Linked DNA regions of Homo sapiens: regions 2, 3, 4, 5 and 6 are each reported to be linked to region 1. Evidence: microRNA targets listed by miRTarBase, many of them from high-throughput screens and not tested one by one. Region 1 holds a microRNA gene; each other region holds the end of a gene's coding sequence.
Evidence for each region. The annotated mature microRNA hsa-miR-616-5p reads ACUCAAAACCCUUCAGUGACUU and lies in region 1 at 1,856-1,877, shown strand. An mRNA with a match to its seed (bases 2 to 7 or 8) in the 3' UTR can be bound and repressed. Matches are read on the target gene's strand: a 7mer-m8 pairs with bases 2 to 8, a 7mer-A1 pairs with bases 2 to 7 and ends in A, and an 8mer does both.

Region 2: miRTarBase lists CHAF1B as a target of hsa-miR-616-5p. Seed matches in the 3' UTR shown: 7mer-A1 at 1,007-1,013, 8mer at 1,356-1,363, 8mer at 1,614-1,621 and 7mer-A1 at 2,914-2,920.
Region 3: miRTarBase lists NXN as a target of hsa-miR-616-5p. Seed matches in the 3' UTR shown: 8mer at 3,254-3,261.
Region 4: the mRNA of PDF is a reported target of hsa-miR-616-5p. The part of its 3' UTR that is shown has no 7-base or 8-base seed match.
Region 5: miRTarBase lists SPIRE2 as a target of hsa-miR-616-5p. Seed matches in the 3' UTR shown: 7mer-A1 at 3,961-3,967.
Region 6: miRTarBase lists CYTIP as a target of hsa-miR-616-5p. The part of its 3' UTR that is shown has no 7-base or 8-base seed match.

The regions. Positions count from the first base shown.
Region 1 is chr12:57,516,100-57,521,099 of GRCh38, reverse strand. MIR616 (microRNA 616) reads left to right here and starts at 1,841; the gene lies at 1,841-1,937. MARS1 (methionyl-tRNA synthetase 1) reads right to left here. Exons shown (of 21, transcript NM_004990.4): 20 at 4,763-4,855; 21 at 4,448-4,665. The coding sequence ends at 4,519. It overlaps DDIT3 (DNA damage inducible transcript 3), which reads left to right and starts at 586. Exons shown (of 4, transcript NM_004083.6): 1 at 586-682; 2 at 3,347-3,394; 3 at 3,662-3,831; 4 at 3,920-4,507. The coding sequence starts at 3,694. The coding sequence ends at 4,291. LOC128125814 reads left to right here and starts at 620. Exons shown (of 2, transcript NM_001414991.1): 1 at 620-682; 2 at 3,347-3,388. The coding sequence starts at 620. The coding sequence ends at 3,388. It also overlaps a transcript of MBD6 not described here. RefSeq lists a silencer at 159-618 and enhancers at 1-788, 1-814, 689-818, 789-1,750.
Region 2 is chr21:36,415,731-36,420,814 of GRCh38, forward strand. It overlaps CHAF1B (chromatin assembly factor 1 subunit B), which reads left to right. Exons shown (of 14, transcript NM_005441.3): 14 at 545-3,285. The coding sequence ends at 636. Among named protein-coding and RNA genes, the nearest start is that of CLDN14-AS1, 12 kb to the right of the region's middle.
Region 3 is chr17:796,859-801,942 of GRCh38, forward strand. NXN (nucleoredoxin) reads right to left here. Exons shown (of 8, transcript NM_022463.5): 8 at 2,452-4,273. The coding sequence ends at 4,091. Among named protein-coding and RNA genes, the nearest start is that of MRM3, 17 kb to the left of the region's middle.
Region 4 is chr16:69,324,447-69,329,530 of GRCh38, reverse strand. It overlaps PDF (peptide deformylase, mitochondrial), which reads left to right. Exons shown (of 2, transcript NM_022341.2): 2 at 352-2,618. The coding sequence ends at 509. VPS4A (vacuolar protein sorting 4 homolog A) reads right to left here. Exons shown (of 11, transcript NM_013245.3): 11 at 2,592-5,084. COG8 (component of oligomeric golgi complex 8) reads left to right here. Exons shown (of 6, transcript NM_032382.5): 6 at 352-3,103. Among named protein-coding and RNA genes, the nearest start is that of PDF, 3.6 kb to the left of the region's middle.
Region 5 is chr16:89,869,764-89,874,847 of GRCh38, reverse strand. It overlaps SPIRE2 (spire type actin nucleation factor 2), which reads right to left. Exons shown (of 15, transcript NM_032451.2): 15 at 3,529-4,798. The coding sequence ends at 4,576. It overlaps TCF25 (TCF25 ribosome quality control complex subunit), which reads right to left and starts at 1,256. Exons shown (of 18, transcript NM_014972.3): 1 at 989-1,256. The coding sequence starts at 1,180. It overlaps LOC112268179 (a long non-coding RNA gene), which reads left to right and starts at 1,360. Exons shown (of 2, transcript XR_002957933.2): 1 at 1,360-1,880; 2 at 2,927-4,471. RefSeq lists silencers at 472-941, 1,412-1,531 and enhancers at 1,612-1,771, 1,542-2,498.
Region 6 is chr2:157,411,587-157,416,670 of GRCh38, forward strand. It overlaps CYTIP (cytohesin 1 interacting protein), which reads right to left. Exons shown (of 8, transcript NM_004288.5): 8 at 3,033-4,557. The coding sequence ends at 4,091. Among named protein-coding and RNA genes, the nearest start is that of CYTIP, 30 kb to the right of the region's middle. RefSeq lists an enhancer at 2,116-2,165.

The sequences.
Region 1 (5,000 bases):
CTATGTGCCCATTAGCTGGGAGGGGCCAAGAAATATGGGAGTCCCTTATAGTGGGGGTAAAACGGCGGGTAAAGCTAGGTGGGCGGAACAGCAGCTTCTGGGGGAGACAAGCGGCAAAGAGGCTCACGACCGACTAGGGGCGACCAAGGCTGATAGCCGTTGGGGCCGTTGGGCGCCGGGAGCTGGCGCCCCGCCCTCTCTCCTCTCCCCCACCCTCCGCACCTCCCACCACCCTCGGTGTCCCCTGCGCGTGCGCGTGCAGACACCGGTTGCCAAACATTGCATCATCCCCGCCCCCCTTTCCTCCCCTCCCCCCCCGCTACACTCCCCTCCGCGCGCGCGCATGACTCACCCACCTCCTCCGTGAAGCCTCGTGACCCAAAGCCACTTCCGGGTCCGACACTACGTCGACCCCCTAGCGAGAGGGAGCGACGGGGGCGGTGCCGCGGGGCTCCTGAGTGGCGGATGCGAGGGACGGGGCGGGGCCAATGCCGGCGTGCCACTTTCTGATTGGTAGGTTTTGGGGTCCCGCCCCTGAGAGGAGGGCAAGGCCATGGTAAAAGATTACAGCCAGGCGCTCCCGAGGTCAGAGACTTAAGTCTAAGGCACTGAGCGTATCATGTTAAAGATGAGCGGGTGGCAGCGACAGAGCCAAAATCAGAGCTGGAACCTGAGGAGAGAGGCGAGTACTGATTCCCATCTACCTTTTACCCTCCCGTCTCCTCAAAGTTGGGGCGTCCGCTCTTTAGGATCGGCCTCACTCCTCCACAGTGAAGTTAGGGACCGTCCGAGAGAGGAATGGGGAGAGTCCCTTATTCTGGGGTGGTGCTTACAAACCCCTATTGCTTCGGACGACGGCGTCTCTCCACCCCTGCCCGGAGCCGGAACACGGGCCCTGCTCTGTGCTGCTGGGCAAAGGGACCTCGGTTGCCCTTGGGAAATTCATTCTTTCCCGTAGCCAACTTCAGGCCTCATCGTTAGGCCTGTCCGCGGGGAGGCAGGTCAGCAGGACACACCCCCGCTCTAAGACTGGGTGACCATCGCTCAGGCCGTTTCCGCCGCTTCGCCACCAGCGGGCCTTCTCCCTACCCCACCCCCAATTCTGTCTCAGTCTCAGTGCCTCTGGTGTCAGCATGGCCACCTTGGTAGCTGGGGCTACTGGACCCTGCAGCGGATAGGGGAACCTTGAGGAGACACAAGCCTTTGGGAGGGGTGCCGATGGACAGGGAGTGGTGTGTTTTCCTTTTGCCGTAGAGGTCTCTGGGCCTCCTGCACAAGAGAGCAGCCTGGATCTCTTAAGTGTAGGAGGCCATTTGGGGTCTCCCCAGGGTATTGTCCTTCCCTCGGGATTAGTCCCTGCCTCTTTAACCCGGTCCTGTCTCCCAGCTAATCTCTGTGTAACCATTGCATCAGGCCAGCCCCGTTTGGCTCTGCAGCCTTCTGACCTGAGGCTCTACTGCTGATGAAAGCCAAGTCCCACACACTGGAAGGCAAGGGAGGGTTCCCCAGGGAGGACAGCCCTGCAGAGAAATACTTCGGGCAATATTGCATCTCTAGCCCCTAGGGATCAGCAGCTGCCACTCTGCTTCTGCCCCTTCCCTATAAGAGAGACTGGGGGGAGTTTATCCATTCATTCTTAACAAATACTTAATGAGGACCTACTGTGTGCCACACAGTTTGGGGCTCAGGGTACATCCTTGAGCAAGAGGAAAAAATCATCTCAGTGGGAGGCCTACAGTAAACAAAATATAAGTGCCACGGAGAAAGCTAAAGCAGAGAAAGGAATGGAGAATGTTCAGGATGGAGGTCAGAGTGTTACATCAGGTGGTCAGGAATTACCTTAGGTAATTCCTCCACTCAAAACCCTTCAGTGACTTCCATGACATGAAATAGGAAGTCATTGGAGGGTTTGAGCAGAGGAATGACCTGTTTTAAAAGGCTCACTCAGGCTGCTGTATGGTGAATAGAGTTGCGGAGGGGTGGCAAGAGAAGAAATGGGAAGACCTTCTGCAGTCAGAAAGTTTCTGCAGTAATTTAGAGATGGTAGTGAATTGATCTAGATTGGAAACAATGGAATTAGAAGTGTTTAGATTCTTCTAAGCAAAGGTTTTAAAAACTCATTTTTAAAGAATGAGTTAAGGGCCGGGCATGGTGGCTCACACCTGTAATCCCAGCACTTTGGGAGACCAGAGGTGGGTGGATCACCTGAGGTCAGGAGTTCAAGACCAGCCTGGCCAACATGGTGAAATCCCATCTTTACTAAAAATACAAAAATTAGCCGGGCATGGCAGTGCATGCCTGTAATCCCAGCTACTCCGGAGGCTGAAGCAGGAGAATCGCTTGAACCCAGCAGGCGGAGGTTGCAGTGAGCCGATTGCGCCACTGCCTTCCAGCCTGGGCAAAAAGAGTGAGACCCGTCTCAGAAAAAAAGGAATGAGTTAAAATTTGCTAGTACTTTGGATTGCAGGGTGTGAGAGAAGAGGAATGAAGGATGATACCAAGGTTTTTAGCTTAAGCAACTAGAGTTGTCATCTGAGATGGGGATGACCTTGGAAGGGGAAAATCAGCAAGAGTTTGCCTTTGCACATAGTCTTAGGTGCCTATTAGACATTGAAAAAGAAATGGCAAGTAGGCAGTAGACAGCAGAGTCTGAAGTTCTGGAAGAGGTCCAGACTGGAAATGTACATTTGGAGGATGTCAGCCCTGTGGGAATGGAGTTAGGAAAATGCTATGATTTGTTCCCTTCCCTGTAGTTTAGTTTTTACCCTGGCAGATTTGAGGCCTGCTTTGGATTTAGAGAAAGCTGAGTTGGCCAGGACTTTACTATTATGTAACCAGGACTACAAATGTCAGCAACTAAAAATAAAGAAAGTCAGGCCCTCTTCTGCCCTTCGAAATGGCTACAGGGACCAAGTATGCATACCCCACAAGACCAGAAGTAAGGAAGGACCAGTAGGAGGCTGGAGGTAAAAGAAAAATAAGGGCCCAGCACGGTAGCTCATGCCTATAATCCCAGCACTTTGGGAAGCGATGGATCACAAGGTTAAGAGATGGAGACCATCCTGGCCAACATAGTGAAACCCTATCTCTGCTAAAAACACAAAAATTAGCTGGGCGTGGTGGCACGCGCCTGTAGTCCCAGCTACTCGGGAGGCCGAGGCAGAAGAATCACTTGAACCGAGGAGGCAGAGGTTGCAGTGAGCCGAGATCGCACCACTGCACTTCAGCCTGGCAACAGAGCAAGACTTGGTCTCAAAAAAAAAAAAAGAAAGAAAAAAAGAAAAAGAAAAGTAAGTTGCCTCTCCCCCTTCCAAAAATGGCTGACATTTCTCTTTGTTGCCCACAGTGTTCAAGAAGGAAGTGTATCTTCATACATCACCACACCTGAAAGCAGGTAAACTTAACCTACCCTTTTCCAAAAATTTTAAACGGCAGGACAGTAAATATTTTAGATGTTAAAAGTCCTATAGTCTCTAGCGTGACTCTTCATCTCTGCCACTGTAGCACCAAAGCAGCCATAAACAATATGTAAATAAACAGATGTGGCTGTATTCCAGTACAACTTTACCTACAAAAACAGGCATCAGACCAGCTTGCCAACTTGTGGCATAGACTGTTTGCTACATGGAGCTTGTTCCAGCCACTCCCCATTATCCTGCAGATGTGCTTTTCCAGACTGATCCAACTGCAGAGATGGCAGCTGAGTCATTGCCTTTCTCCTTCGGGACACTGTCCAGCTGGGAGCTGGAAGCCTGGTATGAGGACCTGCAAGAGGTCCTGTCTTCAGATGAAAATGGGGGTACCTATGTTTCACCTCCTGGAAATGAAGAGGTAAGAATGTTAGCCCTAAAGCTAAAGGGGGATGTTACCTTTCCCTTCTCAACTAATATCTATGTTCCCTTTCCTCATTTCCTTGAAGGAAGAATCAAAAATCTTCACCACTCTTGACCCTGCTTCTCTGGCTTGGCTGACTGAGGAGGAGCCAGAACCAGCAGAGGTCACAAGCACCTCCCAGAGCCCTCACTCTCCAGATTCCAGTCAGAGCTCCCTGGCTCAGGAGGAAGAGGAGGAAGACCAAGGGAGAACCAGGAAACGGAAACAGAGTGGTCATTCCCCAGCCCGGGCTGGAAAGCAGCGCATGAAGGAGAAAGAACAGGAGAATGAAAGGAAAGTGGCACAGCTAGCTGAAGAGAATGAACGGCTCAAGCAGGAAATCGAGCGCCTGACCAGGGAAGTAGAGGCGACTCGCCGAGCTCTGATTGACCGAATGGTGAATCTGCACCAAGCATGAACAATTGGGAGCATCAGTCCCCCACTTGGGCCACACTACCCACCTTTCCCAGAAGTGGCTACTGACTACCCTCTCACTAGTGCCAATGATGTGACCCTCAATCCCACATACGCAGGGGGAAGGCTTGGAGTAGACAAAAGGAAAGGTCTCAGCTTGTATATAGAGATTGTACATTTATTTATTACTGTCCCTATCTATTAAAGTGACTTTCTATGAGCCAAGGTCTTTTACTTTTTCTTCTTGCCTTTAGGGGCTTCAGGGGGTTTCCCCTCAGCTACAGCCAACTGTTTCTTTAGATCCAAGAGTTTCGCCACCTCCGCAGCAACCTCGTTCTTGTCTGCCTTTTGTGCTTTCAGTTCTCGGACAATGTTTCCCTAAGATAAAGGGGGGTGGGGAGGTAACAGTGAGGCAAGAAAAAGATCTATTTAGGATTCAGCTTGTCCAGTCTCCCACAGGGCTTAAGCTTCATACTTGTTTTGTCACTTCATCCATCAGCGCTTGTATCTGCTGTGGCTTGGCTGTTGTAACAGTCTCTACAACTGCTGGCTTCGGGGACGTTTTTGCCTGGAGAACAACAAAGTTATCACCAGCAACCATAAATATCCCCTAACCTCCAGTTTTATACAGCATCTCAGAGGGAAAGTGGTTACCTTTAAGTCGAAGGTCTCTTCTAGTTAAGACAGGAAAGAAAAACTGTAAGTGAGGAAGC
Region 2 (5,084 bases), not on the chromosome of region 1:
TTCTTGCCCATGACATTCTTTTTTTTTTTTTCTTTTTTTTGAGATGCAGTCTTGCTCTGTCGCCCAGGCTGGAATGCAGTGGCACGATTTCGGCTCACTGCAGCCTCCACCTCCCACGTTCAAGCAATTCTCCTGCCTCGGCCTCCCGAGTAGCCGGGACTACAGGCGTGCGCCATCACACCCGGGTAATTTTTGTATTTTTAGTAGAGTCGGGGGTTTCACCACGTTGGCCAGGCTGGTCTTGAACTCCTGGCCTCAAATGATCCACCCGCCTCAGCCTCCCAAAGTGCTGCGATTACAGGCGTGAGCCACCGCGCCCAGCTTGCCCATGACATTCAAAAATGCCACTAGACATTGCCCACTGTCCCTTGAGAGGCAAAATCGCCCCTGGTTGAGAGCCACTCTATAGAACTTCCATTATATCAGTATAGGATCTTGCCAGGCAGCTCAGTTCCGTGTCTTGGCTCTGTATTCTGTAAATGTCAGCCCTTGACTTCCAGAATTCTTCATTTACTTGCCAACCTTATGTTTGTTAATGTTGCAGAGACGCCTGGAGACGCTCAGGGCAGTCCCCCAGAGCTAAAGCGGCCCAGACTCGATGAAAACAAAGGAGGCACGGAAAGTCTGGACCCTTGATGGGACCTCGGCTTCTGCTCGAAGCCTACCAGGCTCCCGGTGTGTGCAGGGAGACGGTAAAGCTGGAGGTGCCTGAGACCAGGGCTTCCATGGAGCGGGACACACTGTAAATGGATTTCTATAACAGAAGTGACATGTGTACTGATTTTTCTCCAGAAATATGGATGCTGTTGTATTCAGTATCCATTTTTAACTTGGGACATGAACGTTTTAACGTAGTAAATCCTCTTTTTGATGAGTTTCTGAAACTGGAGCGGTTCAACGTTATCCAGTGTGAAAATCAGTGAGTCCTCCCTGGCATCCTCGTGAAAGTGCACACACTTCATGGAGGGACTCCTTTTCAATAAGAATTAGGAAGATGAGAAAGTAATTTGAGATTTTACTCTGTCGAATTTTAGAGTATTTGAAGTGATTGTTAGATTTCACTTCTAAGGAGTTGATTGATTAAACTTTGGAAGGTAGTTGTGTTTGTTTTCTGATTTTAAAGGTGACGATGCTTATTCTTTTAGTAACTAAGTGAAGTGAAAAAGATGGGTATCACCCATCATCTTCCCACCAGAAGTAACCCTCGTTAATGTTGTAGTATATTTCCTTAGCATTTTTGTGGATCTATTTATTCTAAAAAGAGAATTGAGATTTTATTTCATATGCAATTTGGTATCTAAATAGGTTAGTTTTTTAGATTGGTTTTTCAAAGCAAAAAAAGTATCTTTTTTGTTTTTTGAGACAGGGTCTTGCTCTGTTGCCCAGGCTGGAGTGCAGTGGCGCTATCTCAGCTCACTGCAGCCTCGACCTCCTGGGCTCGAGCGATCCTTCCACCTCAGCTTCCCGAGTAGCTGGGACTACAGGCATGTGCCACCATGCCATGCTAATTTCACACACACATGCACCCACACACACACATATATATGATACATATATATATATATACACACACACACAAGTATGTGTGTATATATATATTTTTTTTCTTTTTTTTTTGAGATGGAGTCTCACTCTGTCGCCCAGGCTGGAGTACAGTGGCACAATCTCGGCTCACTATAACCTCCGCCTCCTGGGTTCAAACGATTCTCCTGCCTCTGCCTCTTGAGTAGCTAGGATTACAGGTGTGTGCCACCACATCCGGCTAATTTTTATATTTTTAGTAGAGATGGGGTTTTGCCATGTTGGCCAAGCTGGTCTCTAACTCCTGACCTCAGATGATCTGCCTGCCTCGGCCTCCCAAAGTGTTGGGATTACAGGTGTGAGCTACTGCACCTGGCCTAATTATTATATTTTTAGGGGAGACGGGGTTTTTCCATGTTGCCCAGGCTGGTCTCGAACTCCTGGGGCTCAAGTAATCCTCCCTCCCCAGCCTCCCAAAGTGTTGGGATTACAGGCGTGAGACACCATGCCTGGTCAAATGGTATCTGTTTTGACGGGTGGTTCTCAACTGTAGCTGCATACTGAAATCACCTAAGAGCTGACATACCAGTGCCTGGGTTCCCGCTTCGGAGGATTTGGCCTAATCGGTCTGGGGTATGTTCTGAATATTAGGATTTCTTAAAGCTCCTGGAGTAATTCTGATGCGCAGCCAAGATTGAGAAATCTAAGGGAAAAAACTTTCCCTGGATACGGTCTGTTCTGGTTAAATGCATTTCCACTGAAAGCATTTTTTTTTTTTTCCGAGACAGAGTCTCGCTCTGTCACCCAGGCTGGAGTGCAGTGGCGCAATCTCCACTCACTGCAACCTCACCTCCTAGGTTCAAGGGATTCTCCTGCCTCAGCCTCTCCAGTAGCTGGGATTACAGGCACCCGCCACCACGCCCGGCTAATTTTTGTATTTTTAGTAGAGATGGTGTTTCACCATGTTGGTCAGGCTGGTCTCCAACGCCTGACCTCGTGATCTGCCCACCTCAGCCTCCCAAAGTGCTGGGATTACAGGCGTGAGCCACCGCGCCCAGCCGAAAGCATTTTCTTGATTATCTCTGCCCCGTCACTGATTGACATCCTCCTTTGCTGGGGCCGCGGACTGAAGGACAGTATGCAGGAGGTGCCATCAGCTCTTCTGAAAAGAGACAGCTTTCAGTGTCATGTGGCTGGCGTGAGGTGCGGTTTGCAGTTGTTGATCCTGTGCAGACAGATGAATGACCATGGGTCCCCTGTCCTTATTGAGCAGCCTGCTTCCTGGCCATACCTGGGGAGGAACAGTATTAGGTTTTTCTGGGTGTGGTGGCTCACACCTGTAATCCCAGCACTTTGGGAGGCCAAGGTGGGTGGATCACTTGAGGTTGGGAGTTTGAGACCAGCCTGGCCAACATGGTGGAACCCCATCTCTACTAAAAATACAAAAACTAGCCAGGCGCGGTGGCACACACTTGTAATCCCAGCTACTCGGGAGGCTGAGGCACAAGAATCGCTTGAACCCGGGAGGCGGAGTTTGTAGTGAGCTGAGATGGTGCCACTGTACTCCAGCCTGGGCGACAGAGCGAGACTCTGTCTCAAAAAAAAAAAAAAAGAGAAAAAGAAGAACAGTATTAGGTTTTACAAATCTGTTTCTTGTGCATTGATTGTGGGAGTTGGGGTGGGGGACCCCTGATGGCCTGCCTGTTCTCAGCCATCATCCTTAAATATAAATCAAAATTGGCAATAAAAGACCAAGTGAAGTCACTTCAGTGTCATAGTCTAAAACTGCCTGCAACCATCTGGGCAGTGTATTGGGAAAGCTTTTGCAAAGGGAGCCCAGCCTGAAGGTTGGGCAGGCTTCCACCTTACAGTGGCTGCTGGGTTGAAGATCCTTCTCATGGTTCTGGATCTGTACTTGGAGGGGTCGTTGTTTCTGTTTTGAGCAGTATTTCCAGATGTCTCTAGCAACTCTACTGTTGAATATTAGTTCCTGCTGCTGGGGGTGCCTAGAAGAAAATCAGTCTCAGGCTTGGGGAGACTGCTTGGGAGAACTTGACCTGACTTCCCTGGAATCTGGGATTGTGAGGATAGGTCGGCGTTTGAAGGAAGAAAGTTGGAGGCTCAGCGTGGGCAGCAGAGGGTGAAGCCTTCATTTTATGCAGTGGCCCGTACGGTGGACAGGGGTATGCGGTGCCTCCTCGGGTTATCGTGGATAACGGGCCCAGCCATCCTCAGCAAGTGCCCACAGGGCCAGGGCCCTCTAGCAGAGAGGGGCAGGAGGATGTGCCACGGGGCAGGGGAGAAAGTCTCCTGGGGTCCTCGTTTACTCCAGTTTCCTCCCTTATATCCACTTCCGTCGTCTTTGCTGAAAGCACATCTGTGTAACGATGCCCTTGGCCCTCCTTACCTAAATAGTTGTCAGCGTTCACTTAAACAACATAGGTTCCAAGTCCTTGGCTCTGGAAACATCAAATGGGGAGAGGGAGGAGGTGGAGGATGAGCTGCTCCAGCCCCTTCTTCCCTGGTCTGGGGTCTCCCAGGACTTCTGCAGCCTCCCTGGTTATTAAGCTACAGTTCAACCTTGGGTGTGTGTGTAGGACAGACAGACTTGGACAAATTACTTCATGGGTCTGTGCCTGTTTCTTCATCAGAAAAAGTCTCTACAGCTAGAAAACCTTGGACTTTGTTTGCTTTGGTAGGGGAGAGGGGTAAGAGAAAATGTAGGGGGGGGTCACCCACAGAGAAACGAGAGACTGAGTTAATGCAGCTGGAAGCTGAGCCAGATTGTACTTCCCTTGCCTGGCATATTGAAGTAACACACTTGTTTTCATGCACAAATTCTCAGTGGCCACTGGGGGTCACTGTCCCCACTGAATCCACTCAGCAGTCCTGCTTCCTTAGGCCTGAAGGTCCCATGTCTCCGCCCCACCTCCTCTAAGTGATCCGCGCCCCTGTCCGGTCTTGGGAACAGAGTGGCCTTAGATACCGGCTTCCGCCCCGATGGCCAGACCCAGAGTGGAACACTGTTGAGCAGACAGGGGTGGGAGAGGATGATGAAAGCAGTATGTGCATGGCCATGCCTTTGTTCATTCATTCATTCATTCATTCATTCATTCATTCAAGAAATGTCTATCAAATATCCTCTGGGTACCAGAGGACACCTCAGGAACAAACCAGACAAAAGCCACCACCCTCTTGGGGCCTACATCCTGGCTTGGGGAGACCAACATAAGTAAATACAGGGAAAACAGAGTGGTGAGGCGCCCTGGGAGAGCTGGGTTGGAGACTGGGTTGTAGCCTGGAGTGAGAAGGGCCGAGCCGAGAAGGTCGAGAGGCAACGCAAGAGAGAACGGAAAGTGATCGGATGGGGCGTTCTAGATTTTTCTAGGAGCAGGATATCCTTGTCATCTAGGGTACCCGGTGTGTTCTCTGGGCAGGCTGGGTGTTTTGGGGTCCCCCACTGCTTCCCCACTTGGCATGAATCCCCATTTTGTCTGGAGTTGCCCTGTTCGTCACCCGGCCTCCCTGTCACCCTCCCCTTGGGAGTCGACCCCACGCCTGCC
Region 3 (5,084 bases), not on the chromosome of region 1:
TAAGCACCCGGAATCCGGACTGGAGGCCGTCTCTGCCTCTGGATTGCACACTGGCCTACAGACCTGGGGACAGAGTCTTTCACGAGTTGTGTATCGTTTAACAGAAACCCAACAGTTCCACCCAAACCTCCTGACACATTCTCGGGCTTGGGAAGTGTCCCAAAGCACCAAGGGGGTGAGACACACGCCTTGAAAAATGGCAGTAGGCATACTTACCTGTCTTCATGCGCTCACATACGAGGTGTACCTAGAACGCCCTCATGTTATATTCCCAGCACTAATGAAGCTACTGGTCAACAGCTATTTGTTCCCAAAGAATTTTCCCTTGCGCAGCCGCAGCCTGGAGGAAGCAGGGCGTGTGCCCTCGTCTGCTGGCGGCAGCAGTGAGGGGTGTAGCCAAGTGCCCACTTCTCTCATTCAGCTGCTTCGGGGCAAACTGGAAAGATCCTTTGAGCTCACAGCCCCCTGCTCAGTGCTACTCCTGAACCTGCGGGCCTGTGTGCACAGCCACCCACAGCGCGCACAACACATGGGCCTGCCCAGGGCAACGGCACCGTCAACAGCGTGTGCCCTCGCTCAGGGCCCTGCTGGTACTACGCTTCCCAGTGTGCAGGGTTCCCAGACGTGTGTCCTCTCATACATTGCATTTCCTCCCTAAGCTGCACGGGGCAACACCGTGTTAGGTCCCGCGCATCTGCTCCTGGGCCACATCCGGCTCCGTCTGTATTGTTCCTGAATTCAGTTTGCTGTCCTAGAACAAGGCAGCAGGAGGGGAGAACAGCTTTTCAGTGTCTTTAATTAGGCAACAGGAAAAAACAAAGTCTGGCTGAAAATTACTATTTGAAGCTTGGCCGATGCCAACACAGCACTCGCTCCCTGCGTTCTGGTAAGTGATGGCCATTGATTTCAAGGACGTACCAAGGGGCGAAAAGCAAGAGCAGGAAGTCACCTCGCTCTGGAAAAGAAGCTGGTTTTCATCTGCTGTATGTGCTGGTCCCAAACATACCCTTTTCTCTTTTTTTAGTATTTTTTTTCCCAATTAGGAATTCAATGTGGAAAACATACCCTTTTTCTTCAACAGGCTTTTAATGTTGGGAAGACAGGTTAAAAAAAACAACAACAACAGGCTGGCTGTGCCGGCGCACGCCTGGAATCCCAGCACTGTGGGAGGCCAAGGCAGGCAGATCACCTGAGGTCAGGAGTTCGAGACCAGCCTGGCCAACATGGCGAAACCCCGTCTCTACTAAAAATACAAAAATTAGTCAGGCGCGGTGGTGTCGCTTGTAATCTCAGCTACTTGGGAGACTGAGGCAGGAGAATGGCTTGAACCTGTGAGCTGGGATCGTGCCACTGCACTCTAGCCGGGGCGACAGAGCGAGACTCTGTCTCAAAAAAAAAAAAAAAAAAAAACCCTCATCGCTGTTGTGAGGATGAATGGATGGGATCTGGAAGTCACTGTGGTAAACACAAATCTGGGAACCACAGAGTGGCGTTTTCACAGCCGCCCCCAGCCTCCACCTGCAGGGCCTGGTTTTCCTGGCTGCCGGAGGAAGCCCTTGAATATGCCACAGCTGGTGCTGAACCTGCTTCCAATTAGCAACAAGAATCTGAAGGTGGAGCTGCTTGGCGGGGATTATCATGCCACCCACTTCGCCTGCATCTGTGGCCTTTACGACCTCTCACTATCGATCCCTGACACTCAGAAGTGATTCTTCCCTAACGGTTTCCCGCAAAGCAGTCACTGTATAAACCTGAACCTTTGGAGTAAACCTTCCCCACGGGTCTTAAGGAAGCTACAGACCCACTCTAAAAGGGGAATTCTGGTGTCAAGAATCCAGTTGCAATGACTTAGGGCAACCCCCTCGCTGGACTTTGTTCCTCCTGCCCCAAAGGTAAGCAGCTGCTAAGAGAACCCACCTTTCCTCCGAGGCCATCATGATACATGGAGAGAAATCCTGCCACCTCCCACATTCAGGTCGGCCACATTCATCCCACCCACCCCGACCCCTAAGGGAGACTCTGGCAGCGTTCCCAGAGAAGCCTTGAGCCTGGGACCTGCTGGGTTTAAGAGGCTCCCACACTTGGCCCATTCTTCACAAGGAGACCCGTGCGTGATTCCTCCTGTTCTCCCAACCAGCTTTCTCAGGCTTCAGAGGACTCGGCTCCCCTGGAGGGAGGAAATGGGCAAGAATGTCCACAGCAAGGTACGCGATCTGAGGATTCACCCTCCGTCCAGGGCCAAGTCAAACCAGGAGAGACGGTGGCCAGGGCTGCAGGAGGGATCTGCCTCTGCCACGGTCATCCAAATGAGCTTCCTGGCTGCCGGAAGCCAAGAGGATGTGACAGATGCTACATCCTGGGGGTCTCAAAACTCCTGGGACTCAGCTCCCAGCTACCAGGTATCCTCCACTGCCCACCCCGATAGAGCACAGGACCACAAGCAAAAACAACTTTTGTGATCAAGGACAGCAGAGGCCCAGGGTGGATGAGGTCCAGAGATGCCTGCTTTATTTCCTACGGGGTGATCGCATTTCAGGCTGGTAACATCACATAACAAGTCTAATCGCCAACTAGTTGTACGCCTCTGAACTACAAGTCAACAATCCAATTCAGCAAGGAACAACAGTGTCAACAGCTCATTAGCGGGTGGGGACCGGATTTTCCAAATCAATGGTCTTGGCTGGCAGAGTGCTGAGTGGGGCCTGAGTGAATGAGGCTAAAACGCTTGGCCGAAGCCGTCCATCCCCAATCCTGAGAACAGAGTTGTCTGTTTCTCTTTCGGGGGTCAGGTCAGCCCAAGTAAGAGGCCAACAACCTACCTGGGCCGATACAAGGCGACACAAGGCCCACCCGTGGCTGACGCGCCCTCCACCCTCACTCCATCCCGGGGCACAGCTCCTTCCGCTGGTGCTTAGGAAAAGGCGAGGCTTCTGGTAATTTCTCATCTTTGTAGTTCTGCTTTGAAAAGAAAAGGGGGCCGGGCACGGCGGCTCACGCCTGTAATCCCAGCACTTTGGGAGGCCGAGGCGGGTGGATCACCTGAGGTCAGGAGTTCGAGACCAGCCTGGCCAACATGGTGAAACCCCATCTCTACTAAAAATACAAAAATTAGCCAGGTACGGTGGCGGGTGCCTGTAATCCCAGCTACTCGGGAGGCTGAGGCAGGAGAATCACTTGAACCTTGGGGGCGGAGGTTGAAGTGAGCCAAGATGGTGCCACTGCACTCCAGCCTGGGCGACAGAGCAAGACTCCATCTCAAAAAAAAGAAAATAAAAGGGAATGGCAGGGGTGATCGAACGTGGGTGTGGGCACCTCAGCAGAGATCAGGGGCCTTGGGCACAGAGCTGGGTGGAGCGAGAGGTCCGTGCTGGTGCAGAGGTGCTCCTCCTAGGACTCAGGGCTAAGTTTCTTGGGAAGATGTCCAAAGAGAAGGATTCGTTAACAGAATTTCAGGATCGTGGGAGCTGTTTGTATGATATGAACCATTACCTTAGCTACATTTTTCTTCTCACCCAAAAAACCTCTACAAGCTTCCTTTTGCATTTGGAGATCCCCTGCCTGAGAACACAAGAGTGGGCTGCTTTTCTCTCAGACCGAGGAAGACTGTGTTGCTTAGAAAAGGACGTCCTCACCCGCAGCTCTAAGCGGAGGCCCTTTCTCAGCTCAGCCTCCACGCAGGTGTCACCCGGCGGTTCCCCTCTGGCCGTCCGGGGCCGTGTGTGCCGACGTCAGAGTCAGAGCCCGAGCGGGACCCACCGGCCCTCCACGCTCACTCTGCCCAGGACACCCTGGCAGATCCTTCACCAAAAGCTAGTGACTTTGCGAAAGCCATGCAGCCCCGCTCTGGCCGGGCCCCCGGCCATCCCGTGCTCCCAAACAGAGTCTCCAAACACGGTGGACTCTGCCGCTGCTGATTCCACACCCCAGGGTGCTGGCTGAGGAGTTTACTGCAGAAACAAGGCACCACAGAGAGGCTGGACACTTGGGTGGTGGGATTCGGGGCACGCTGGGTAAGTCCAAGGGCGGAAGGAAGGAGGGGGAGGAGGAGAAGGCTGAGTTTTAAATAACGTCTCAGGAGGCCGGAGCCACGCTAGATGGGCTCCGGTTTGAGCTTCTCTGCTAGGAAGTCATTCACAAAGGCCTCCACGATGGCGGGGGTGATCTCCTCCACGTCCATCACGTACTTGGCCCGGGCTGACATGTCCAGGATGGTGAGCAAAGGGGCAGCCTCAGGCAGGTTGGTGTAATCTCGCAGGGAGTCAGTCATGTCATCCTGAAGCCGTCAGGAGGGAGAGAAAACCAAGAAGTTTTAAAGAAAGGAGGGGGAGAGTCCCCTGGGCCCAGTCTCCCCAGGTGTGGTAGCTCCCGCACCCTGAAGAGCCGGCGTTTCCCAAGCAGAGGGCTCCCAGCCTGGGAAGGAGGGAACCCTGCCCTGCCTTCCGGAGGAAGGGGCTGCTTTGTAAAATTCTCTCTTTGCATCCGCCCTGCAAACCACTAGGTAAGTCGTCTGTATTTAATTATTTATGTATTTATTAGCATCAACACCATTTTAATACGTCCTCAGCATTTTAGAAATGTCACATTCTTTTTTTTTTTTTTTTTTTTGAGATGGAGTCTCGCTCTGTCACCCAGGCTGGAGTGCAGTGGCACGATCTCGGCTCACTGCAAGCTCCACCTCCCGGGTTTAAGCAATTCTCCTGCCTCAGCCTCCTGAGTAGCTGGGACTACAGGCGCCCACCACGCCCGGCTAATTTTTTACATTTTTAGTAGAGACGGGGTTTCACCATGTTGGTCAGGCTGGTCTCCAACTCCTGACCTCAGGTGATCCGCCTACCTTGGCCTCCCAAAGTGCTAGGATTACAGGCGTCAGCCACCGTGCCAGTCTAGAAATGTCATAGCCTCTGATTGTTTATTTTTGTAACCAACTGTCAATGATTTGCAGCCCCACTGTGGGTTATCTGAGGCCAATCTGGACTTCAACTCTGGAATGTTTTTAAACAGAGACAGCTCGCTGTGTTCCAACTCCCACCCCTGTGGTTTCAGGCAGGACAGGAGCTGCACAGCCAGCCAGTTCAGAAGACAGC
Region 4 (5,084 bases), not on the chromosome of region 1:
AACAAGTGGGGTCTCAAGCTGCAGAACCTCTGTTAGGAGTTGGGAGCCCACAGGTACCTCAGAAGTGGGAGGAGTGTTCGGAAGGGTCGCACCGTAGAAAGATGATTTCTCATCTCAGCTCTACAGTGAGCTCGATAACCTAATTACCAGAGTTGGGAACCAGGTTGAACGCTTGGTAATGGACCGAGATGAGGGACGTTTTCCAGTTAGAAGAGGAGCTGCTGTCTACATTTGCCATCTGCTGTTGCCTCTTGTCAATGGGAACAGCCAGGACCGGGGGCAGGGGTAGGGAGGTTGAGGATGATGCAGTTCAGCTGTTCCCACTCACCAGGGCTGTAACTTCCTTTGCAGGGCTGGACCCCAATGGAGAACAGGTGGTGTGGCAGGCGAGCGGGTGGGCAGCCCGCATCATCCAGCACGAGATGGACCACCTGCAGGGCTGCCTGTTTATTGACAAAATGGACAGCAGGACGTTCACAAACGTCTATTGGATGAAGGTGAATGACTAAAGCTTTGCTACTGGGGCTGAGGATTCCGGATACCAAGACGCAAACACTTTCACTTTGAGCTGGGCAAATCTTACTTGGCATCAACTTGGATGGCTCGCATATGACAGGAAACTGGATTGCCAAGGCATGGCAGACTGAGCTGGAGGAAGATGTCAGAAATGTTTGCCCTGAAATCAGTTACGGACAAAATGTTGGCTACAACTTGAGGAGAAAAATCACCCCCAAAGGAGTGGACATTTCCTAACAATTCTGTATGGAGGAAGGTGGGGTAATTGCATTCGTCTGCAGTAGACACGAGTTCCTCGGACCTGTATAATCTCCCAAAGCCAAGGTTTGGTAATAATGTAGTCCCCAAATACCTGAAAGCTGTCTTTAAAAATGCAGGTAAGCATGTGACTGGCCATTTGTGCCGAGTTCTTATTTTTACGGAGGGCTTGTGGCCTTAGACGCCAGTTTGCTTATGGAAATGAAAGAGAATAGTCCCTGTTCAAGGATGTGTTTCATGACAGCACGAGTGTAAATGAGTGCCCACACATTTTAACAGCCTTGGGCAGGATTTTGCTGCTGAGATCCCTAGAGCAGCTGGTTCTTGGCTCATTCTTGGGGTAGAGGCCGTGGATCAGGGCTGGGGGCAGGGGTGACAATTGAGAAGTGCACTGAGCCCTTTCCTGTTAACAATTGGGCATAGAAAGCAGGATTAGTACTTCCTGGTTATACACTTATTTTGTAAAAATAGAATTAATATCACAGCAACCAATGTGTAGGTTTAAGAAAGTGGCCAGGTGCAGTGGTTCACGCCTGTAATCCCAGCACTTTGGGAGGGCGGGGCGGGTGGATCACGAGGTCAGGAGCTCAAGACCAGCCTGGCCAAGATGGTGAAACCCTGTCTCTACTAAAGATACAAAAATTAGCCGGGCGTGGTGGCGAGCACCTGTAATCCCAGCTACTCGTGAAGCCAAGGCAGAGAATTACTTGAACCCAGGAGGCGGAGGTTACAGTGAGCTGAGATCACGCCACTGCACTCCATCCAGCCTGGGCGACAGAGCGAGACTCAAAAGTATGATTCTGGCTGTAGAGTTTTCTTTTTTTCTCTGTCTCAAAAAAAAAAAGTGTCAGCTTTGTCTTGTCAAGAGGTGAAGGAACTTGTTTTATTCTTTTATTTTTTTTTTAAGATAGAGACGGGGGTCTTACTATGTTGCCCAGGCTGGCCTCAAATTCCTGGTCTCAGGCAATCCTCCTGCCTCGGCCTCCCAAAGTGCTGGGATCAGTTGTGAGCCACACTACCCAGCCAAACTCCAGTTTTAGTTAAACTGTTTCACCTCATTTTTATGCTGAGTTTTGTAAAGTAGGTATTCTTGCTGAACAGAGTCCTGAAAATCAAACTATACAAGTAGTAGGAAGTCCATTAAGCTGTTTAGAGGAAAAAGTGTTATAAATGGCAGTTAAATGAACCCAGGAAAGACCCATCCTCCTTTGTGGCTTTCTCTGAGGCCCCATGAGGCCAAGCAGAAGCAAACTGGCTCTAGGTGCAGCCAGACTTTGAAAAGGAATCCCGGCCAGGCTTGGTGGCTCATGCCTGTAATCCCAGCACTTTGGGAGGTCAAGGCAGGCAGATCACCTGAGGTCAGGAGTTCAAGACCAGCCTGGCCAACATGGCGAAACACTGTTTCTACTAAAAATATGAAAATTAGCTGGGTGTGCTGGTAGGCGCCTGTAATCACAGCTACTTGGGAGGCTGAGGCGGGAGAATCGCTCAAACCTGGGAGGCAGAGGTTGCAGTGGGCTGAGATCTCGCCACTGTACTCCAGCCTGGGCGACAGACCAAGGCTCTGTCTCAAAAAAAAAAAAAAAAAAAAAAAAAGGGAATCCCAACCAGATACTGGTGCAAGGTCAGAGATGCAGCCAATGGGGAGATTTGTAGAAAGCTCATAGATGCTAAAAACATGGGTCTTTAGGAAAATTAGAATTCAGCTGAGCCTCCTTTCATTTGGACAATGTTCAGAAGCTCTTACAGGGGGCTATGGCAATCTTTTGATGCTTCTTATAGCTTTCTGAGGTTAACGCTTTTGTGGTGGGCATCGGTAGCAATAAAATGCAAACTTTATTGCATTTCCAGTAAAATCTCTCCCACTTTGAGCAGGAAGCACTCACAAAAAACGCATATACATGTCAACGTTGTGAGCTCATCAGAGTTTTAGAAATCAACTTCCACAGTGAAAGCCAATGTAGGCAGAAGGTTTATAACAGAATCCCCAGGCAGAGAAGTGAATTTCAGAGCATTTCAGGGAGGAAACTCCTCTGCACATGTCAGCATGTTTAACATCGATGATGGCAGGTTGTGTGCTGGCAGCCAGAGTCTGAGGCCACTGTCCAAAGTTCAGCGTCAGTGGTTCCTGTTGCTGGTCATGGAGAGAGACAACTGGAAAGTCAGGTGTCTTCACGCTCTAACTAGAGCACAGGGATGGACCATAGCCATGCTAACCTTTGTTAACCCCTAGGACTTGTCAAGGTGTTTAAGCAGTAGGAATGAGGAAACAACGTTCTGATTCAAGTAAATGTAACTAGAAGTAAAAATTTAAAAACTTGTAAGCTCACTAAAGTGAAGCTCTGCAGACACGGTTCATATCCTGGTGGCTGAGGGCACATAACCAAGAACTTACACAAGCACCCCCAAGCCACAAAGATCCCAGCTGCTATGGTTGAGGGGTAACCTGCCAGCACTGGAGCCAAGTGTTGGAGCTACTGATCCAAAGTTAGCTCACTTCTGCAGAGGCTCTGAACCAGAGCAAAGAAATGGCCCAGTGCAAGCCCAGTGTGAGCCAAGAGTTGGCCATGTAATCAGTTCTGGCCCAACCAGGTTTGAAAGGTAGAGGAGCAGTACTGGGTTTTGGAGAGGGAAGGTTGGAACAAAGCCCTTTGCAGGCTATAAGCTTCATTTACTAGGCCAGGTCTTTCTGTGTGAATGTGCTTTGACTTTGGTCTGTTTATATGCATGGGGTAAACGTGGGACAGCCTCTGCAGCTTCACTGCCTGCCGGACGTGGGTCCAGGGCTGCCAGCTCTGGGTCCTTGGTCTGTTGGGGGTCGCAAACTGAAATGGCCATGGGGCTATCTGGGCAGGCAACACAGATGAGTGGGGATGGGGGACCCCTTCTGTACAGAGCAGCCTCTACTTAGTGGCCGCTGACAGGCTGCCCCATGAGGACGCAGGCCCAACATTACCTAATTTAATCTTCTAGAAGTCAGAATTCTGAATTTTTATGTCAACTCTCGACTTTTTTTTTTTTTTTGAGACAGAGTCTTGCTCTGTCGCCCAGGCTGGAGTGCAGTGGCGCGATCTCGGCTCACTGCAAGCTCCGTCCCCCGGGTTCACGCCATTCTCCTGCCTCAGCCTCCCAAGTAGCTGGGACTGCAGGCGCCCACCACCACGCCCGGCTAATTTTTTTATTTTTAGTGAGACGGGGTTTCACTGTGTTAGCCAGGATGTTCTCGATTTCCTGACCTTGTGATCCGCCCGCGTCGGCCTCCCAAAGTGCTGGGATTACAGGCGTGAGCCACCGCGCCCAGCAACTCTCGACTTTTAAATGTTAGCGGCCCAAAGTGCTGGGATTACAGGCGTGAGCCACCGCGCCCAGCAACTCTCGACTTTTAAATGTTAGCGGCAGACCAAACCAAACAAACACAGCTGCAGGACGGGTCTGGTACGCAGGGCTCCCACTTTGCAGTCTCTGATCTGTAGGCCGAACAACGGCAAGAACTGTCTGGATCCCACAAACATCCCCAGCCAAACTTCTGAGGCCTTAAGGGGAGGAGGCCTTGCACACCTGACTGGAGAACAGGCCTAAGAACTGCAGTGTTCTGTTTCCTGCTCTGCTTTAGAAAAGAGAGGAGACAGAAAACCAGAGGGTCTTTTAATTGGAAGCAAGGGTGGCCCTTCAGAGTCTCAGTTAAGAGTCAAGGAAAGATGAGATCACTTGGGTAGCTCAAGAAGGGAAAAGGATTTATTAGACCATTTCCAGGACAGGGACCCAGGGGCAGTGGCTGGGTTCAGTGTTCTCACGCTCAGAGGAAGAAAAGGCAGTGGTGAACACCCGCCTGACTGCCTTACCCTGATCTAAACGACACCATCTCCTCCCCCAAGGAAGACACAGCCCTGGATGTGAACCTAGGAGGGTGGGAATGGCTTATGTCACTCGGTCTTTGAGGCAGAGCTTGGGCTGGGGTTGCAGGGGCATCAGCCAATCTGCTCTCAAGGAGCAAAACTTGGGCGTAAAAGGAACGGGCAGTGGGGCTAGCCGGCTGTCTGGAGGTCTGGGTGACCTGGCAGCACGGCTGCTTCTCCCCCGCCACCCCGCCCCACTCCTTGACACTTCCAGGTGATTTTATCTTTATAAATAAGATGAAAATCCAAGCAGCATTAATTTAGGGGAACAAAAGATGGAAAAAAAAGGGGGGGAGGCAGAAGGAGCTGATGAGCATCCAGGAGAGGAGGAAGTAGGAAGAGCAGTGTCCACTGTGTGCCCCAGGGCAGTGGAGTGTCTCTGTGGCTGCAAGGCCCTTCCTTCTGGCTCCCTGG
Region 5 (5,084 bases), not on the chromosome of region 1:
GAGCGCAGAAGTTCTAGACCAGCCTGGGCAACAAGGCGAAAACTCTTCTCTACAAAAAAGAAAAAAAAAAAAAATTAGCCGGGCGTGGTGACATCCACCTGTAGTCCTAGATACTCAGGAGGCTGAGGTGGGAGGATCGCAGAGCCCGCAGAGGCAGAGTTACAGACGGAGGCCAGGGCTTAGGAGAAAACGTCACAGGACCGCATGAGCAAACCATACAGTCAAACTGTTACTTCCCTGTGCCAGAAACGAGCTGCCGGAGATGCAGCAAAGAGTAAGACTAATCCGCTGGGTTAGGCTGATGGGGATGCGCGAAGAGCAAGGCCCTGGGTTAGGCAGAGTTGTTGTGAGGATTAAAGCAGAATGCTCGCAGAGGCCTGGCAAGTCCTCAACCCTGGAACCGAGAGAAGGCCCCTCTAGACTCGAGAAAGGGAAGCCCCACCCGACTCCTGCCCCTACGCCGTGGCCCCACCCCCACGGTGGCCCCAGGCCTCATTTAACCCCGCCCACGCCATCGCCTCGCCACCCCCCCGTCTTTAGCCACGCCCTTTAGCGTCACGGCCCCACGACAGCCACGTGGCCGCAGGCCCATTTAATCCCGCCCACGTCGTGGCCCGGCCCCGCGGACGTTGGCCACGCCCTTGGCATCAAGGCCCCGCACCCTCCACAACCCGGACCCCGCTTAACCCCGCCCATTCGGTCGCCCCGCCCCGACAGCACGGCCCCGCCCCATCCCTTAGCCCCGCCCACCTCACCGGGGTTAGAACCCAGTCTAACTCCGCGGCCCGCCGTCTTCACCCCACGCCACCGCCCACCCGCGTCGCCCTGGCCCCGACGCACGGCCCCGCCCTCCCCACTGCGGCTGGGACCCACGTCACCCTTCCCACCCCTGGCATCACAACCCCGCTCCCCGACCCGGCTGGACGCTCGCCCCGCCCCACAACGTCAAGGGCCACCCCACCCCCACCCGGGCCGCCGCGCTCCTCACCAGCTCGAAGCGGTTGTTGACTCGGACGCCCTCCTTCCCTGCGCCCCCGGGACGCCGGACACCAAGCTCCCGCTTGGGCCCTTCTTCTTCCGCGTCATCGTCATCACGGAGATCGAAATGCAAGGCGCCGGGCCCGAGGGGCTCCTGGCCGCGCTGTTCCCCCCTCAGCCTCCGGAGGGCCCGGCGCGACATAGGACCGAACGACCACGACGTCTGGAGAGAGGGAGAAGGAAGCGCAGAAAACTCGGCTGTCGGCGCGCCTGCGCACTCTTCGCGCGGGGTCGGGGGCGGGGGAGCTGGCTGCGCGCCTGCGCACTCTTGGCGCGAGGGGTGGGGGCAGGACCTGGCTGCGGCGCCTGCGCGTCGCGGCTCTCCGGAACTTTCCCGCTTCAGCGGCGGCGTCTGGGCGGGCTCCGGGGGGTCCGGGCCAGGTCTCTGGAGAGCTGGGTGTCTGCGCGCCGTGCGCACCGGGCATGGAGAGGTGCCCCGCGGGGATGACGGGCTTCGATTCGGGGTAACGGGCGCGCAGCCGGCGACAGTCGGCCCTGCCCGGCCTTGCCCATCCATGTGGCCCGGAACCCGCAGCCGCGTTCTGCCCGCCGGGGCCTGTCCCCGCACCGTGCCTGCAGCATTTCAGCTGCGTCCCGGACGTTGCTAGTTGGTCCTTTTCGTGTCAGGGTGTCATTCGAGTGATCTAGCCGTCGATGCCCGCCTCTGCCCTGGAGCCGCCGCCCCTCGAGCAGCATTGAGTGACGCGGCCCTTACTGCCCGCCCGAGGCCTCTTTAGGGACAGTGGTTCTGACAGTTCTAGGACAGGCCGCCCGCGTTTGTCACGATCTAAGGGCCGGGCGCGGTGCTCACGCTTGTAATCCCAGCACTTTGGGAGGCCAAGGTGGGCGAATCACCTGAGGTCGGGAATTCGAGACCAGGTTGGGCAACACGGTGAAACTCCCTCTACTAAAAATACAAAAATTAGCTGGGCGTGGCTGCGCACGCCTGTAATCCCAGCTACTCGGGAGGCTGAGGCTGCAGTGAGCCGAGATCGCGCCACTGCACTCCAGCCTGGGCGACAGAGCCAGACCCTGTCTCAAAAAAATGAAAAAAATAAAGTAGATGAGGCTGAGACAGTGCTGGGTTCAGTGGGCGGAGGGCACAGCTTCCTGTGCCTGGGGTTGGGGACATGGGGACAGGAGGGCATAGAGAAGACAGGTGCCAGCAGCCTCCTGCCCGACTTACTGCGGCTTCATGAGCACAAGCAGCAGCCCTGGTGAGCCGGCCTGGCCCCTCCCAGGATGGGTTAGGGTTTTATTTTATTTTGTGAGATGAGGTCTTGCTCTGTTGCCCAGGCTGGAGTGCAGTGGCGCAATCTCGGCTCACTGCAACCTCCATCTCCCAGGCTCAAGCACTTCTCCTGTCTCAGCCTCCCGAGTAGCTGGGACTACAGGCATGTGCCACCATGCCCGGCTAATTTTTGTACTCAGTAGAGATGGGGTTTCACCATGTTGGCCAGGCTGGTCTCGAACTCCTGACCTCAAGTGATCTGCCCACCTCACCCTCCAAAAGTGCTGGGATTACAGGTGTGAGCCACTGCACCTGCCGTGGTTTAGGGTTTTAACGTGGGCTTTCATTTCCAAGTGTTCCTGTATGAATTACAACCCAGTCTCCCCATGATAGGGAGTGTGAGTCCCCGTAGAACCAGAACAACCGTCGTCCTTACCAAGCACTACACATTAGCTTATTGCTGGCTGTGTGACCGGAGGAGTTCCCTGACCCTCTCTGTGCCTGTTTTCTTATTTTTAAACAGGAATAAAAATACAGGCCAGAGAGTCCGTGAAATGCTTACACGCATGCTAGAAGCTGGCTGTTTTTACTGGGGGCTCTAATTTTGTGTGTTTGGATTTCCTGGACCCCAGCTGACAGGAGTATTTTCTCCCGCAGGCCCATCAGTTACAAGTCCTGTCCCTTCTGACCTCCAGGCCCCACGGCTAGCATTACAGCCTGGAGTCAAAGTTCTGGGTGAGCTGTGTATCTTTGGCCAAATTCTTTGACCTCGTTGAGCCTCAGTTCCCTCATCTGTAAGGTAAGATGACGGCAGAACGTCACGGAGGAGCAGGGCAGGGCCCCGTTAACAGGCTGAGCCGGGCGCAGGTGAGCAGACAGCACTCGGCACAGGGCCTGTCTAGAGCCTGCAGTCACACCTCCTGCCCCTGTGGATCCTCTCCCTGGAGAACGAGAATACGGATCTGGGAAATGAGACCAAAGTACCCCCCAGGCCAGCAGGTGTGGCCAGAGGAGCTGATGGGCAGTAGTCTGTGCCGTCCGCATGCAGCCCTGACCATGGTGGCCAGGACCACGAAGCTGGTAGAGGCAGCCAGGGCTGCGTGGACAGAGCAGGCCTGGAGCCCTTGCCTGGTGGGCACCTGACTCTAAGCCAGGAGGCCTTTCCTCGTCCTGGAAGGCAGGTGGCCCCTCAAGCCCAGCTTCAACCTTGGGAGAACATGCCATGCTGGGTGAATCCTCAGCGCACATCCCAGACAGAAGACTGTGAGACCTCCTTTATTAGGCCAAGAGTGGCCATGTGCACAGATTTACAGAGCTGCTCCTCCCTGTGCCAGGACCGCCCAGCATCTTCAGGAGCCTCTGGGCCAGGGGCGAGTGAGGACAGCACCAGAATGTGGTAGGGCCAGGAGAGGCAGGACACATGTGGTTTGGACCCCAGGGAAAGGGAAAGGGCAAGGGCAGGGAGCAGCTTGGCACGGACCTTTTTTTTTTTCGAGACAGAGTCTCGCTCTGTCGCCCAGGCTGGAGTGCAGTGGTGCAATCTCGGCTCACTGCAACCTACACCTCCCGGGTTCAAGCGATTCTCCTGCCTCAGCCTCCCCTGTAGCTGGGATTACAGGTTCCTGCCACTATACCTGGCTAATTTTTGCATTTTCAGTAGAGACAACATTTCATCATGTTGGCCAGGCTGGTCTCAAACTCCTGACCTCAGGTGATCCTCCCTCCTCGGCCTCCCAAAGTGCTGGAATTACAGGCCTGAACCACCACGCCTGGCCAGACCTTTCAAACAGGTGGGGGTGCCTCCCAGGAGGACCCTGCCTACTCAGAGACTTCCCAGATGCCTCTGCTGCCTGAGTCCCCACAAAGGGAGAGCAGAGGCAAGCAGGGCACTCTGGTCCAGCTGGGAGCCAAGATACCCTGTCCCCACCTAGACGTCCACTGGGGAAGGGAAACTGCCGTTCGCATTCCTGGGGACGGAGAAGAGCATGGGAACATGGGATGCAGTCTGTGCCAGGATCTAGAACCTTCTGCTTTCTCTCTTCAGTGAGAAAACCCACCCTGTTCCCTCCCCTTCCTCCCTGGCAAGGAATCCTGAGAAGAAACAGCCTCCCCCAGGGAGGGTTTTGAAGTGCGCCTGAACCCAAATGAGCTCTGGGGCCAGGAAACAGTGTATATAAATATATAGACTGTGTGTATATATTATAAATGTATCTATATATGTATATATGTACATGCACAGCTCAGAGCGTCCTAGCCTGATACAGGGCCTGCCTGGTGCCTCCTGGAGGCCTGGCCACCTGGGGCTGTCACTTGAAGTCAAGAGTCCTGGTGTTAGGGATGTAGAGGGATTGGGTCTGGCGACTGCGTCGTGGCGTAGTGTTGAGGACGTCCACGCTCTTGCGGCTGGAACGCACCACGTCTGCCACAAAGCTGGTGCACTCACTGCAGACATCCTTCAGGACACAGCCGTGGGAGTAGATGTGGGGGAACGCCTCCTCCACGCTCTGCCACTGTGGCCCTTGCAGAGACCTGGGAAGTGGGAGAGGGCACTCAGGGAGAGGAGCCAGCCAGGGTGCCACACCCCCCTCCCTGCTTGTGCATGCCACAGCCCCCTCCTGGCTGCCTTTCACCCTAGGCCTCCCCTTGGCCCTCAGGCAACAAACACAGCTAGCAGTGTTCATCTCAGCAGACTGTTCCCTGACCACCCAAGTCCAGTTTCCATCTCATACTGCTCAGCCTCCCAGAGCCCTACACAACGATCCGTCTCTGCCTTGCATTTCCATTTCCTTGGGGTGTCCTAGCAAACAGACAAAGC
Region 6 (5,084 bases), not on the chromosome of region 1:
CTAGTTATGCAATCTTGACCAGGTTATTTCATTCCAAAATTCACTAATGCTTCCATTTCTTTATGTGGAAATTATTATGACAGTCACTAATTTTTACTCAAGGAGATTTAGAGACAGCTCAATACCCTTATATTATCAAGTCTGTGAACTCCTTGAATGGTGTTACAAACAGACTAAGGTGGTCCCCTGATCCCTAACTCCTAATATTCATGATTGTGTAATCCCTGCTTCTTGAGTGTGGGTGGGCCTGTGACATGTTTCTAACAAACAGAACATGGTACAGTTGATAGGATACTATTCCCATCTTAATGTTACATTATTAGGCGAGGTGACGGGAAGTCACTTAAGAGGTTATGTTACATGGCAAAGGCGATAACATTGTATTATTTAAGACTCTGTCTTGTTTGTAGCCTCTCCCTTTTTCCTCTTCATTACCAGCCTTTAAGAATCAAGCTGCCATGAATTGTATGGCCACCAGGTAATGATTCTGACAGCAACCTGAAGGAGCTTAAAGGTTGATCCTTCTCCAATCAAGCCTCCAGATAACAACACCAAAATTGCAGTAAATTGCAGGTTTGTGAGATCCTGAGCAGATCCAGCTAACCTGTGCCCAGACTCCTGGCCCACAGAAGCTTTGAGATAATAAATATATTTTAGGCTTCTAAGTTTGTGGTTATTATTTATTTATTTTTATTTTATTATTATTATTATTTTTTGAGATGGAGTTTCACTTTTCTTGCCCAGGCTGGAGGGCAATGGTGTGATCTCGGCTCACTGCAATCTCCACCTCCCGGATTCAAGCGATTCTCCTGCCTCAGCCTACGGAGTAGCTGGGATTACAGGCATGCACCACTACACCCGGCTAATTTTTGTATTTTTAGTATAGACGGGGTTTCATCATCTTGGTCAGGCTGGTCTCAAACTCCTGACCTCAGGTGATCCACCCACCTCGGCCTCCCAAAGTGCTGGGATTACAGGTGTGAACCACCATGCCTGGCAGTAATTTGTTAAATAGCAATAAAAAAGCTAATAGTGCAAAGTCTCAATTAAGTAAGTAGTGTCTTTTAAGGTCCTCAAAGAAGTAAATGTTGAGAATCACCCAGGTTTTTTAAAAAGTCTGCTTTTAAGACAATTATTTCTTTATGGTAGAGAGAAATGTAGGGAGAGAGAGAGAGACAGAGAAAGAGAGAGAAAGTCCTGACACTGAAAAATAGCATTCTTTATTTCATAAAGGCATCAAATTTTGATTTTGTAGCCCATAGGTATGTAAGGAAATGGATATAAAATAACAATACTTTTATGATCTGAGGGGCTCAATATAGTTATGTATTACTTACTATTTTTAGTATGTATACATTCAAAAATGTCTGTACTTTGGTGATCAAGACACACATACTATTTCCAAGTTTGATCTATTCAGCGCAAACTGGGATTTTAAATGCTATCTGTATCTTAAGATATAAAATTATTACAAGGTAGAAAGTCATAAATAAAAGTTCACTTCCAAAAATATATTACTAATCTGTTTGTCATGGTTGTGTTCTTCAGCCACATGATAAAGTAATTCCCAATCTACTTGATTCAAATTTGGTTTATCAAATGCCCTTCTAGAAAAATGCATTTTCATAACAGGTTGTCAATTAATGGAATTCACCAGTAATACATATTTGAGAACTTTCAAGTTAAAAAAACACTTTTCAATTTTTTCCCTAGTAAATTATATCAGAATGAATCACTATGCACCAGAAGTTTCTTCTAAAGCCTGACTGAAGTCATAAATTAGTCTGAAAGTTATACTGTGAGAAATTTACCCACATTTCTACTAAACAAAAGCTAATTTTCTTACAGCTTGTGAAATATAGAACATGACATACCCTTCCTTCCTGTACTTTGGTTAACCAGTACTTTTTTCTTTATTCTCAGAACATACCTCGACTCTAATTCTTACCGCAAACTAAAGTGATGCTTGCTCCGTCCCTTCCCTGCCCCTTTTTTGCATTTGAGGTCTACTGTCATACAGCAGTGTTACACTTCTGTATTAAAATCACAAGAAAAGCAAATGATCTATGGTCTGCTTTCCCGTATGACCTATGTCATTCTGTGTAGTTCTCAAAGCATTTTTTCACCTTGTAGAAGATTTCAAAGTCATCTTTCCTCAAATAAATGTGGTGTTTCCTTCCCCTGGACTTTGTGAAATAGGATAACAAGAAATGCTGAATTCATATAAGTAGACCTTTAACAGGATGATTCTAGACTATGATGAGAAATAAGCAATACCAGTTGAATCATAACTGGTTTGCAAGCTCTTGTTGAAAATAAATGCACTGCTAATCATGTAGTTATTAAAGAACCTATGTCTGAAACTTGTATATGAGGAACAGAGAAATGTTTGTTTTCCTATTTACCCAAAGAAATGCTCTTATCTGTGCAGCATCTATAATTGTACATTTTAAGTATTCCTGTTGGGTGGAATAAAAAGTACTGTGATGATCACTAAACAGAACCAAAAGAGTAAAAGATATCTGGAATAGACTAGAGCAAGGAAGAACTGGCTTCCAATTTTAGCCCTGCCACTGACTAGCCTTGTGACCCTGAGAACATTTCCAAATTCCTGACTTGTTATCTGTATGCCTAACACCTACTATATAGTAATTGTGAGGATCATACGTAAAGTGTCTTTAGCCAACTAGGTACTCAGTAAATGGTAGACAGTATTGCTATCATTTCTGTGAAAGGTGTGACACCCTGCCTTTCATATGAGTGACTGTCATGCACAGGCCACTGGATGTTTCTCAGTTCAAAGAGTTAATAGAAGGCAAGTCCCAACTAGAAATCTTTTCATACTTTATCATTTCTTTCTCATCTTAGATGCTTCCTTACCCTACCCTCTTTTATCTCAAAATAACTCATTTCTTAAGCAGAAGTTTAATTAAATTTAGCAGCTCTACTTAAATTGAAGTGTTTCTATTTCTCCCAAACACACACACACACGCACAGAGAGAGAGAGAGAGAGAGAGAGAGAGAGAGAGAACTTAAAATCAGCAGACTATTTATTACATAGTCCAGATTGTCTACTCTAGAATATAGGTTATGAATAGCTGTGCCACCAGAACAGAGAATTCATAGACTTCAATGGATATTAAATAAAACATGGAGTAATTGAAAGGCTAGAAGTAATGTGATACTAACATAACCAATAGGCAAAAGACTGCTGAGGTGATAGCTATTTAGAATATAAGATATAAAGTGAGAAGTAATATGAAAAAAACTACAGGAGGGAAGTCCTTTTCCCAACCCTCAGTTTTGGATGTTAGACATTTGTAGAAAAAAAATTACAAAGCTGTAGGATTCGGAGAGTTCTAGACTTGCCATTAATGTTCAGGCAGAACAAAAGCTGAATTGGGCAAAAAACACGACATCCCCACCCATTTTGTTTAGACTGTCTATAAAAATGACTTTATTATGATCTTTGCAGCACCCATCTCAGACCACATCTTTCCATGGTTCTCATGAACCTTAACCCCTCCTATTAAATCTTATACTTCCCGCTTTATTGTCACTATAGATGTGAGAAACAGCTGATGGTCATCTTTGTTTACAAGCCATTACAGGTTTGAACAAATTCAAAATTGCCTATTATTAAGCCTCCGCAGGAGCTACTGGGCATAAGCAAACCTAAGATTTTATAACCCAGCAATTATCCTATAGAAAATAGTCCAGATTATTATATTCTGCCACACCTTTATTCATACTTGACTCCAAAAAGTTCTCAATTATTCACAGGGATAATCTAGAAAATAAATATTAGTTTTGCTTTCAAAGACATTACTGGAATGAGCAGGAACCTGCATCTTTGTTATATTAATTAACTTATTATTTAGTTTTCCTGTCTGCTTAGAAATTGGCTGTTTAGGTTGAAAAATGATTTAAGAAGCATAAACTATAACACAACAATTTAAATAAAGGTCACTATTGCTGTGAAATGGGATGTCAGTTTTGCAATTCTTCTGCACTTTCCCACCAAGCTGGGATCTGGGTGAGTCTAGAGATATTTGTGAAATAAGCTAATTTGAAAGGACACCACAATCCGTCAAAAGCGACTTTCTTCCTCTTCCACAGCACGATGAAGGCCAGGGATAAATTTCAAGAGTTGCTTTCGGACACTTCCCTTTCTGCTCTTCCGGGGCAGGGTCCCAAACATGCTTGATAAGTTGCCCTCCCACAAGGGAGACATGGATCCGCTGCTGGTGTTACTGATGCTCCGGTTCCTCCTTGAAGATGACCTCCTCAGAAAATCATCCCCCTCCTTGGGGATAAAGCACTCATCATCTGTACTCGTCTGCCGACTGAAGGCACCCCTGCTGGAGTCCTCAGACACACACGTCTGGTAGCCATCTTCACTGTCCATCGTCATGGAGCTCAGCCAGCTCTTACAGCTGCTCTCACTGGATAATCGATTCCGGTCCACAAGGGCTGGGCCTGGCCCAGGCAGGGGTCCAAACAAAGACAATTCATCCAAGTCCATGTTTTCCAAACTGGGGCAATTAGCTGCATCACCTAGAGCACAAAGTCTACTGTGAAATGGATCTGTTCATTACTCCCTACAAATAAATACACTACATCAAAACTTCTCTTTGAATGACACGAGAAAGAGTAAGGGTGAAAAATACTTTTCACTGAGCTTTGGCGTGCTTGAATAAGTAACTGTTTATGAGACCATTTGATAAACCTTATAGTAGGGTTTCCTGAACTATTGTTCATAGACCAAGGTTCCATGGTCACAAAAATTATAATATTAGAATAAATTTAAACAAGATGTTTCATATGAGAACAGTTCAGCCCAATTGACAGTCTACCAGTGTGGCATCTGAACCTCCAAAATGATCATTTCTTAAATTTAAATAACCCTGAAACCTTTTATTAAAATTCTCACAGAAATGGGGTTCCATAGAATACACTTGGGGAAATACTATCATGATTTTCTCCACTTAGTTTCTCTGATTCTTAGGTACTGTCTTTTAAAAATAATTCTAAAATTATTATAAAACCATTTGAAGTAAATAGAAAACAGTTATGGAACAGGT